Linked DNA regions of Homo sapiens. The protein of the gene in region 2 purifies or fractionates together with the protein of the main gene of each other region. This does not show direct contact. Each region holds a gene or a part of one and is shown on either strand. Other genes may lie near its edges.

Region 1 (3,649 bases), on a different chromosome or scaffold from region 2:
CAATTGTAAAATATTGCTATAACTTGCATATTATATTGATGTAGTTTATAAAAATTAACATTGTATGCATGCCAAGTGTTGCATGTATTAACTTGTGAAATGAGATAAAATTGAATCATACAGATTTTAAAATGGCATATATTTATACCTGCCATTGCCAGTGACCTCCACCTTGCTAAATCGAATGGTCTGTTCTCAGTCTTTATTTTATCTCAGCTTGTAAACAGCATTGGACATGGTTGATCATTCTTTTCTCCTCAGTATGCTGTCTTCACTAGTTTTCCATGGACAGCTCAATCATTTGGTTCTCTTCTTTACTGGTGACTCCTTAGTCTCATTTGCTGGTTCCTCCTCTTCATCCAGTCTCTTAGTGTTCCTGAGGTTAGTCCTCAGTCCTCTTCTATTTACCCCTATGAGCTCATCCAGTCTCATGGCTTTAAGGACTCTAAAAAGCTAGACCTCCAAAATTTATGTATCTAGCCCAGACCTCTTCCCAGACCTACAGGCTTGTATATTTAATATTCGTCTCAATGTCAGCAGTTGAATATATAACAGGTTTTTCAAACTTAGCATGTCAGGTAGATTAGTAATAAAACAACACTTTTAAGTAATGTGCATCAGTGTAGAAATAGGGTGGAGAATGACATCAGAGCCTGGTCTTTTTAACTCTGGTAAAATAGTACTGCTTCATTTGGGGGACAGACTTTATTCTCAGCTCTGGGCCTGCTATATTTGATATTCCTTTAATAGGTTGGGCTCCTGGAATAAACTTTCTCATTTTTCCTTTTCCTTTTGTTCCTTTCTTTTAGACTTTAGATTTAATGTACAAATGAATTGGAGTGGCAGGAGACAGATCATTTTTTTCTAAAAGTAAAAATTCAGTTGTTTCTTTTCCCACCTGCATTGTTCATCATGTTAATGCCAGTTCTTTTTTAGGTATCATCTTTATCAGAAAGTGAGGAGTCCCAGGACTCATCCGACAGCATAGGCTCCTCACAGAAAGCCCACGGGATCCTAGCACGGCGCCCATCTTACAGGTGAGTACTCTCTTGTATGAAGCCCTGCATGTTATGATAGTACCAAATGAGTTCAAGAGGTGCTGTGCAAAGTACACTAAAGAAGTTAGCACGCGTCAGTGTTAAGAATGAAATTGGTTGGCCCTCGCCTATAATCCCAACCCTTTCGGAGGCCGAGGTAGGATTGCTTGAGCCCAGGAGTTCAAGACCAGCCTGGGCAACATGGCAAGACCCTGTCTCTTCAAAAAATACAAACCTTAGCTGGACATAGTGGCGCACGCCTGTAGTCCCATCTACTTAGAGGCTAAGGCGGGAAGATGGCTTGAGCCCAGGAGTTTGAAGTTACAATGATCTGTGATTGTGTCACTGTGCTCCAGCCTGGGTGATAGAGCAAGATCCTGTCTCCAAGAAAAAATGAAATTGGACCTTTGGCCGGATGCAGTGGCTTATGCCTGTAATCCCAGCACTTTGGGAGGCTGAGGCGGGCAGATCACCTGAGGTTAGGAGTTTGAGACCAGCCTGGCCAACATGGTGAAACCCCGTCTCTAATAAAAATAGAAAAATTAGCCGGGTGTGGTAGTGCACACCTGTAATCCCAGCTACTTGGGAGGCTGAGGCAGGAGAATCACTTGAACCTGGGAGGCGGAGGTTGCAGTGAGCCGAGATTGTGCCACTGCACTGCAGCCTGGGCAACAGAGCAAGACTCTGTCTCAAAAAAAAAAAAAAATGTAAATTTAATCTTTATCTTACACCATTACACAAATCAACACCAAATGGATAAGAGACCTAAATGTTAAGACCTGAAACCATAAAAATCCTAGAAGAGAACATAGGCGATAAGCTCTTCGACATTGACCTTGGCAATGATTTTTTGGATATCACACCAAAAGCTTAGGCTACAAAAAAATAAATAAATGGGACTACGTCAAACTAAAAAACGTGTCTGTGTAGCAAAGGAAACAAAGCAACAAAATGAAAAGGCAACTTACGGACTGGGAAAAAATTATTTGCAAACCACTTATCTGATAAGGGGTTAATACCCGTAACTGAAGACAAAATGAGAGAACCTGAGGATACAGCTCTGAGTAGATTACCTAGAATGGAACACAGAAAGACAAAGTTAAGATAGAACACAGAATGAGAAGGTCCAGTACACAACATACATAGATAAAAGGAGAGAAGAGGGAAGGGCACTTCCAGCTTCTAGTCTCTCCAGGAGAGAAAATGATAATGACTGCAATTTCCAGGATATGAATTTCTCAGCATAAGAAAGCAAGGTCCCAAACAAGATAAATTAATAGAAACCTACATCTAGGTGTATGTTGTAAAGTAAAACTGGAGAACACCAAGGATAAACCTGAGATCTTAAAAGCTAAAAGCTTCCAAGTGAAAAGACCAATTACCTAGAAAGGAAGGACCAGTAAGCTGACAACAGATTTTTGAAGTACAGTATAAGACAATGAACTAAAATCCTTATTTTTATCTTTAAATTATTACATGTTTTTTTGAGACGGAGGTCTCACCCTGTTGCCTGGGCTGGAGTGCAGTGGTGTGATCACAGCTCACTGCAGCCTCAACCTCCTGGGGTCAGCTCCTCAGCCTCCTGAGTACCTGGGACTATAGGCATATGCCATGATGCCCACCTAATTTTTTTTAATTTTTGGTAGAGATAGAGTCCCACTATGTTGACCAGGCTGGTGTCAAACTCTTGGGCTCAAGTGATCCTCCCACCTCAGCCTCCCAAAGTGTTGCTATTACAGGCATGAGCCACTGTACTCAGGCTCCAATATTTAAATTCAAAGAGAAAGTAACTTTTGACCTGGAATTCTGTGCCTACTGAACAGTCTTTCAAAAATGACGGTGAAATAATAATCATTTTCAAACTGATTTAAGAAACTACTTAAGGAGGCTGGGTACAGTGGCTCACGCCTGTAATCCCAGCACTTTGGGAGGCCGAGGCGGGTGGATCACTTGAGGTCAGGAGTTCGAAACGAGCCTGGCCAACATGGAGAAACCCTATCTCTACTAAAAATAAAAAAATTAGGTAGGCATGGTGGCACATGCGTGTAGTCCCAGCTTGAACCCAGGGGGCGGAGGCTGCAGTGAGCTGAGATCGTGCCACTGCACTCCAGCCTGGGTGACAGAGTGAGACTCCATCTCTAAAAAAAAAGAAAAAAGAAACTACTTAAGTGTATACTTCAGGAAGAAGAAAATGAAAGGAATATAAATGTGAGAAAGTATGGTGAACAAAGACAATTCATTTCAGTTAGCATTGGCTTTTTAGAACAATAGTAATAATGATTAATTTGGGTAGTTTCATGGTTGTTGTTTTTTTTTTGAGATGGAGTCTCGCTCTGTCATCCAGGCTGGAGTGCAGTGGAGTAATCTCGGCTCACTGCAAGCTCCGCCTCCTGGGTTCATGCCATTCTCCTGCCTCAGTCTTCCGAGTAGCTGGGACTACAGGCGCCCGCCACCACACCTGGCTAATTTTTTGTATTTTTTAGTAGAGACGGGGTTTCACTGTGTTAGCCATGATGGTCTCAATCTCCTGACCTCGTGATCTGCCCACCTTGGCCTCCCAAAGTGCTGGGATTACAGGCGTGAGTCACCATGCCCAGCCTGAACCTGAGATT
Region 2 (3,749 bases):
GGCAGGGCCTTTAGTCTGGAAAGTCCCCTTCCCTTCATGTCCATATGCTGGGCTACAGCGCCCTCTGCTGGCCTCTCCTGGTAATGCCTAGGAATCTGGGTTGGTAAATAGGGACCTCCTTGGCTTTCTTCCACAACTCCAGACCTCAAGGGAATGCAAATGGGGAAGCTCTTCCTCTGTTCTCAGCCAGTTTTTCTCACACGTCTCATCTCCAGTCCCTTGATGCCCACTCCCTTCAGAATAAAGGAGGTCAAGCCACTTACTATGGCTTATGAGGCCCTGCATGGCCTAGCACCTGGTAACATCGCTGGCGCCCTCTCTTTCTGCTCCCCCTTTGAATATCAAATCAGTGTTTATTTTGTTCTGAGGAGCCATAAGTCCTTTTTGGAACCCACAAATGATGCCATGAACCACTGCATTGGAGAATACAGAGGTACATGGAATTTTGCATAAAAATTCATGAGGTTCTCAAAACCTCCACAGCCCAATCATGGCTTTCAAGTTAGAGCTCCTTTCCTATGCCCTGACCGTAGTGAAGTGCTTGCAGCAACCAGAACCGTCCGTACGTGCCATCCTCCTCAAGACTCTTCCCTACCTTCCTCTTAACCCAGCTCCTACTCGTTCTTCAGGTCTTAGCTTGAGGGTACCCTCCCAGAAAGAAGGCTTCCTTGACCCTCCAGCCTGGGGTGGACAGCTCCCTCAGCCCTCTGGATCCATCAAAGCCCTGGCCACTGAGTGACATGTCTGTCTACTCTGCTGGTAACACCTAAATAGAGCCCCACCCATCCCATAGGGAAATAAGGACCAGAGTTGTCTTGTTTCACACCTGTAGATTTCCTCCAGGTCCTGGGAACACAAAATGGGAAGTTCTATCTCACTATCCATCTCATGCCAGCCAGAGACAGGGTATGATGACGGAAGTAAGCCAGGCTGGTGGCTCACGCGCGTAATCCCAGCATTTTGAGAGGCTGAAGCGGGAGGATTGCTTGAGGCCAGGAGTTGGGGACTAGCCTGGGCAACAAAGTGGGACCCCTGGCTCTACAAAAAAATTTTAAAAATTAGCCGGGCGCGGTTGTGCGCGCCTGTAGTCCCAAGTACTCCAAAGGCTGAGGCAGGAGGATCACTTGAGCACAGGAATGTGAGGTTACTTGAACTGTGATCGCGCCACTGCATTCGTCTAGGCGACAAAGCGAGACCCTGTCTCAAAAAAAAAAAAAAAAAAAAGAGTCAAGGCTTAGTAATATTCCTGAATTCCTGAAGGAGTTAAGAAAGGAAAAGGACAAGCGGGGGTCTAAACGAGAGCACGAACCCTCAGCGTATGACGGCTCCAGGCTCCGGGGGAAAGTCCTTTAGCCATCCATCCCAAAATTAAGCACGCTGGGAGCTGGAGTCACAGCAGTGATAAAACGAACAATGATTCTGGTTCCTACTGACTGACAGGAGAGGTTTAAGGGTCTCTCACTCTCCGGGGAGCCCCTTTCCTTCCTGGCTGCGGAGGGCGGAGCCCGAGAGAGGCACGCATGCGCAATGCAACGTCTGCCTTAGGCCCGGAACTTCGGTGCCTGGGCGCAGCGGTGCACCCGGACCCGGAACATTCTCAGGCGAAAGTGTCTCTTGCGTGCGTGGGCCGGAGGTTAGTGTGCGGGGCCCGCCGGGCGGTTGAAAAGTCCGAGAGAATCAGGATGGAGGCCGTGGCGACGGCGACGGCGGCGAAGGAACCCGATAAGGGTGAGATCTTGGTCACGCGCAGGCGGCGGGTGGGTGCGGTTGCGGTGTCTCTAGGAAATGATTCCCCCAGGAACGCGAAGTAGGACTCGTTTTAGGGGGACACCCACCCCCCTCAGCTTTACCGGTCCTCTTCACTACTTTGCCCAGATTATTCCCTCCCTTGTCGCGGGCTGACCTTCTTTTCCTCCATTCCTTCCCCCCGAAATTAACCTCTTCCCAGTTCCAGACCAATCCTTTCCATGTCCCTAATTCATTTCCTTACCAGGCTAACTCTCAAATTAACAGAAACCTCTCTACCCCGGCCTAATTCCTGCATTGCCTCAGACCAGCCCTTCTCAAATTACCTCCTTCCCTGTACCAAGCTGAGCCTTCCCTTGCTCTCTAGACGAATCCTCCTACCTTTCCAGGCTAAACTTCTACCTGCCTCATGCAAACTTATCCCAATCTAACGATTCCTTCATTTCATTGTAACTCCCGTTTCCCCCAAAGTCCGAAATCCAGCCAGGCTCCTTTCAAAGTCCTTACTCAATTTCTGTGCTTTCCCACAACCTTCAAAGTAATCCGACGTCGGGTGAGGTGTGATTGGAAGCGTGGCTCCAACACCACTGGCCAAGAATTGGTAATTGTGGAAGCCAGATGGAGATGATTGGTATATGGAGGTAGGGGGAGAATTGTCGTTGTACTTTCTACTTTTGTGTATGTTTGAAATTTTCTAAAAATAAAAAATTTAACCTAAAAAAAGTCTTAAGGCCGGGTGCAGTGGCTCCCGCTTGTAATCCCAACACTTTGGGAGGCCAAGGCAGGAGAGTTGCTTGAGCCCAAGAGTTTGAGACCAGCCTGGGCAAGAGAGAGAAACCTGATCTCTATAAACATTTAAAAATTAGCCAGGCCTGGTGGCTAGGGAGTAGCTAGGACAAGCTACTCAGGAGACTAAGGTGGGAGTGTCACTCGAATCCTTTGAGATTGCAGTGACCTAAGATTATTACACCACTGCACTCCAGCCTCTGCAGCAGAGTGAGACTTGAGCCCAGGAGTTTGAGACCAGCACTGGCAACATAGCCAGACCCCATCTCTACAAAAAATTTAAAAATTAAGGCCGGGCCCGGTGGCTTACACCTGTAATCGCAGCACTTTGGAAGGCGGAGGCAGGAAGATCACCTCAGGTCAGGAGTTGGAGACCAGCCTAGCCAACATAGCGAAACCCCATCTCTACTAAAAATACAAATATTAGCCAGGCGTCGTGGTATGTGCCTGTAATCCCAGCTACTCGGGAGGCTGAGGCACCAACTGGAATCACTTGAACCCGGGAGGCGGAGGTTGCAGTGAGCAGAGATCGCACCACTGTACTCCAGTCTGGGTAACAGAGCAAAACTCTGTCTCAAAAAAAAAAAAATTAGCCAGGTTTGATGGTGCATTCCTGTGGTCCCGGCTACTCAGGAGTCTGAGGCGGGAGGATCACTTGAGCCCAGGAGGTCAAAGCTGCAGTGAGCTGTGTTTGCACTATTGCATTGCAGTCTGAGCAACAGAGCAAGACCCTGTTTCAAAAAAAAGAAAAAAAATTTGTCTCTTGGCCCCATCTGTCTCCTTCAGAGAGTCATGTATACTTGGTCTTCATTTCCTCGTCTCCTGCTCACGACTGTCTGACTTTTCTCCTAAGAAACTGCTCTGATTAGGGTCTGCACTGACTTCCCCCATGTTGTTCAATTCAGTCCCCCCATTCAGGTTTTTGTTTGTTTGTTTGTTTTTTGAGAGAGTCTCACTCTGTTGCCCAGGCTGGAGTGCAGTGGCATGATCTCAGCTCACTGCAACCTCCACCTCCCAGGTTCAAGTGATTCCCGTGCCTCAGCCTCCCAAGTAGCTGGGATCACAGGTGCCCGCCACTATGCCTGTCTAATTTTGTATATTTTTAGTAGAGATGGGGTTTCACCATGTTGGCCAGGCTGGCCTCGAACTTCTGACCTCAAGAGATCCTCCTGCCTCAGCCTCCCATAGTGCTGGGATTACAGGTGTGAGCCACCACA
Region 3 (3,649 bases), on a different chromosome or scaffold from region 2:
CTGGAGTGCAGTGGCAGGATCTCGGCTCACTGCAAACTTCGCCTCCCAGATTCACGCCATTCTCCTGTCTCAGCCTCCTGAGTAGCTGGGACTACAGGCGCCCGCTACCACGCCTGGCTAATTTTTTGTATTTTTAGTAAAGACGAGGTTTCACCATGTTGGCCAGGATGGTCTTGATCTCCTGATCTTGTGATCCTCTTGCCTCGGCCTCCCAAAGTCCTGGGATTACAGGCATGAGCCACCGTGCCTGGCCTGAACTACACTCTTAAGATAGAAGTGCTGACACTGTTTTACCCTGCTGAAGACAGCCTCCCCAGCCTTGCCCAGAAGTGAGCAGCACAGGTGGACAGTGCTTCTCTCTCCCTTACCATGTAGTATCCTGGAAGCAGCTTCTGCAGAAATTCCGCCTCTTTATGTTGGACTGTCTTAATAATGAACTCATCGTCGCTGGACACATAGAATAGGGAACCACTAGCTCCAGAGCTACAGAGTTCAATCAGCGGCTCACTGCAGAGGGAATACTGGGGCAAACAGAGAAGAACTAAGAGATTTAGACACATCAGGGCCTTGCCCAACACAAAAATCAACTACAGATGCAATTCTTTTCTAAATAAAAACCAGAGCGAGACTGTGGAGAAAAGGGGCCTTCCTTTGGGAATATCCCTCTGATACTGGAGTCACAGTGTCCTGATATCCAGATGCTTACCAAGTAATCATCGGGCCGGATACCAAATAGCTCCCGGAAGTAGCGGAAGGCAACAGGTGCATAGGTCTTGAAACGAAAGTCATTGTAGTGATGAGCAGGGGTCAGGTTGCTCCCTTCACTGTGGGGTTAAACAGAGGTAGCCATAACTTGCCAGTCCCTATCATCCAGAGAATCTACCTTGCGAAGACACTCAGAGTCACCTCATGGTGGGGGGAGTGGGGGAATACATTCCTCCTAAGATAATCACAGCCCTTCTTAGATGAGTTAGTGAGACAATGGCACAGCATGGACAGCAAGACATAAGAAGAAGAAGAAATCACACTGCCTCCTATCCAATGCATTAGGTTGTTTTTTACGGGTCAATCCATAGGACAGAGGCTAATGGAAGCATCTAGAGGACAGTATCTGCTCTCCGAACTCTCTAGTCCCACATCGCCCTGATTGTAACCAGGTTAAGAAATGGACACATGTCTAAATTGTCCGACCTGAACCCCTAAAACTGCCCTGGGCTGATTTGAAAAGGCCACATTTCCAGGACATGCTCCTGAACATTAAACTCTGTACCTGGGAAAGAAGATACTCTCAACCACGTAGAAATCTTGCATGAGGACATCACGCTCTGGTTTGGTACTCAGGCTCCCCACAGTGTGGGTAATGCCTAACTGGATGGCACCTTTCAAGGCTGATGAGGTTGTCTGAGAAACAAGAGAAATGAGAAGAAAATTCCTAGTATAAGTAGGATCATAACAATAAAAATTCAGAAAGGGGAAGCTAGAAGGAACACTTTAAAACAAACATCCTTTAGTCTGAGCAATAGTTCAGATAAAACTGGGACAATCCAGTTTCCCCATCCCTATGCTGTACTCTGCAATTAAGCTTAGTAAAGATTGGAAGGACAGTGAGGATACAGAGTAGCAAAGCTGGGACTCTCTGAGCCAGCCTCAGCTAGGCAAGGTGCTCCCTCCTGTTGGCCTGCCTAAACAAGAGTTCCATATTTGTATTTGGAAGATACATTGTATTGACACAACGTTCTTAGTTCTCACTCCTAAGGTTTCTGCCCCCAGAGTGTATCTGGAGCCCTCTAAACATTTCCTTCATCTGATATCGAATGTAACTAAAATTAACCAATATTCCTTTTTTTTTTTTTTTTTTTTGAGACTAAGTCTCACTCTGTCACCCAGGCTGGAATGGAGTACAGCAGCATGATCTCGGCTCACTGCAAACTTTGCCTCCCCGGTTCAAGCGATTCTCATGCCTCAGCCTCCCGAGTAGCTGAGATTACAGGCATGCACCACGACACCTTGCTTATTCTTTATATTTTTAGTACAGATGGGGTTTCACTATGTTGGTCAGGCTGGTCTCAAGCTCCTAACCTCAGAACTCCCAAAGCTCTGGGATTACGGGCATGAGCCACCATGCCCAGCCCTAAAATTAACCAATATTCTGATCTGACTGCCTGGCGGCAGAAACTTCAGTCCTCTAAGGAAGGGCCTGACTAGTGTGTCTCAAGGCCAACAGGGTGGGGTGGGCGCGGGCGGAGGCTCACGCCTCTAATCCAAGCACTTTGGGAGACTGAGGTGGGCAGACCACTTTAGGCCAAGAGTTCGAGACCAGCCTGGCCAATGTGGTGAAACCGTCTCTACTAAAAACACAAAAATTAGCTGGATGAGGTGGTGTGCACCTGTAGTCCCAGCTACTCAGAAGGCTGAGACAGGAGAATTGCTTGAAGCTGGGAGGCGGAGGCTGCAGTGAGCCAAGATCACACCACTGCATTCCAGCCTGGGTAACACAGCCAGACTGTCTCAAAAAAAAGGGCAACAGTGTGGTAAAAGAGCTCCTAACTGAAGAAGAAAGCATGAAAGACTCAAATTATTTCTGAGAGCAGTATTCAGACTTAGAATTATCAAACTTGGTCAAAACACAAATACAAGAGCCCCACTCTTACAATCCAGGATTCCAAGCCCGTGGGAAAGTATCGCATCATCTAGATCTTTGCTGTCTGATAACAGTAGCCACTAGGTACACATGGCTATTTAAATTTAAGTTAACTCAAATTTAAAACTTCATTTTCTCAGTCTTACTACTTACAGTTCAAGTGTGGCTACTAGCTACCATATTGGATAGCACAGATACAGCACATTTCAATCACTGCAGAAACTTTGATTAGATAGCTTTGCTCCATTTGCCTCATCCCCAACCTCGGCCAGGCATTACTTATATTTCTACTTGGTCCTCAATGGGCAATAAATTACAACTAGTTTTTTGTTTTTTTTTTCTTGAGACGGAGTCTCGCTCTGTCGCCCAGGCTGGAGTGCAGTGGCGTGATCTTGGCTCACTGCAAGCTCCGCCTCCCTGGTTGACACCATTCTCCTGCCTCAGCCTCCTGAGTAGCTGGGACTACAGGCGCAAGCCACCACACCCGACTAATTTTTTGTATTTTTTTTTTAGTAGAGATGGGGTTTCACCGTGTTAGCCAGGATGATCTCGATCTCCTGACCTCGTTATCCACCTGCCTCGGCCTCCCAAAGTGCTGGGATTACAGGCATGAGCCACCATGCCCAGCCTACAACTAGTTTTTTTCATGTACAAATAGGTCAAAGGAAAATAAATTATTAGTTTCTTTTTTTTTTTAAGTACCTGCCTCCCCAGTTATAATAGAAACTCATCTTTTTATCTTAATGTTCAACATATAAAAAGAGCTAAATGGCCGGGTGCTGTGGCTCATGCCTGTAATCCCAGCACTTTGGGAGGCCGAGACAGGCAGATTACCTGAGGTCAGGAGTTCAAGACCAGCCTGACCAACATGGAGAAACCCTATCTCTACTAAAAATACAAAATTATCCAGGCATGGTGGTGCATGCCTGTAATCCCAGCTACTTGGGAGACTGAGGCAGGAGAATCGCTTGAACCCGCAAGGCAGAGGTTTTGGTGAGTGGAGATCAC

The links.
Region 1: the proteins of CCDC97 (region 2) and ATF1 purify together in Homo sapiens (affinity purification with mass spectrometry; 2 studies listed by BioGRID and IntAct, with this or other methods). This does not show direct contact.
Region 3: the proteins of CCDC97 (region 2) and PIP5K1A purify together in Homo sapiens (affinity purification with mass spectrometry; 2 studies listed by BioGRID and IntAct, with this or other methods). This does not show direct contact.

The regions. Positions count from the first base shown.
Region 1 is NC_000012.12:50,794,973-50,798,621, forward strand, and holds part of ATF1 (cyclic AMP-dependent transcription factor ATF-1), read left to right. Parts: intron 1-925; exon of another isoform or gene 926-936; coding exon 937-1,037; intron 1,038-3,649.
Region 2 is NC_000019.10:41,308,629-41,312,377, forward strand, and holds the start of CCDC97 (coiled-coil domain-containing protein 97), read left to right. Parts: upstream 1-1,543; 5' UTR 1,544-1,682; coding exon 1,683-1,728; intron 1,729-1,848; exon of another isoform or gene 1,849-2,387; intron 2,388-3,749. UniProt on the Homo sapiens protein: May play a role pre-mRNA splicing through the association with the splicing factor SF3B complex which is involved in branch-site recognition.
Region 3 is NC_000001.11:151,229,423-151,233,071, reverse strand, and holds part of PIP5K1A (phosphatidylinositol 4-phosphate 5-kinase type-1 alpha), read right to left. Parts: intron 1,402-3,649; coding exon 1,271-1,401; intron 825-1,270; coding exon 707-824; intron 522-706; coding exon 369-521; intron 1-368. UniProt on the Homo sapiens protein: Catalyzes the phosphorylation of phosphatidylinositol 4-phosphate (PtdIns(4)P/PI4P) to form phosphatidylinositol 4,5-bisphosphate (PtdIns(4,5)P2/PIP2), a lipid second messenger that regulates several cellular processes such as signal transduction, vesicle trafficking, actin cytoskeleton dynamics, cell adhesion, and cell motility.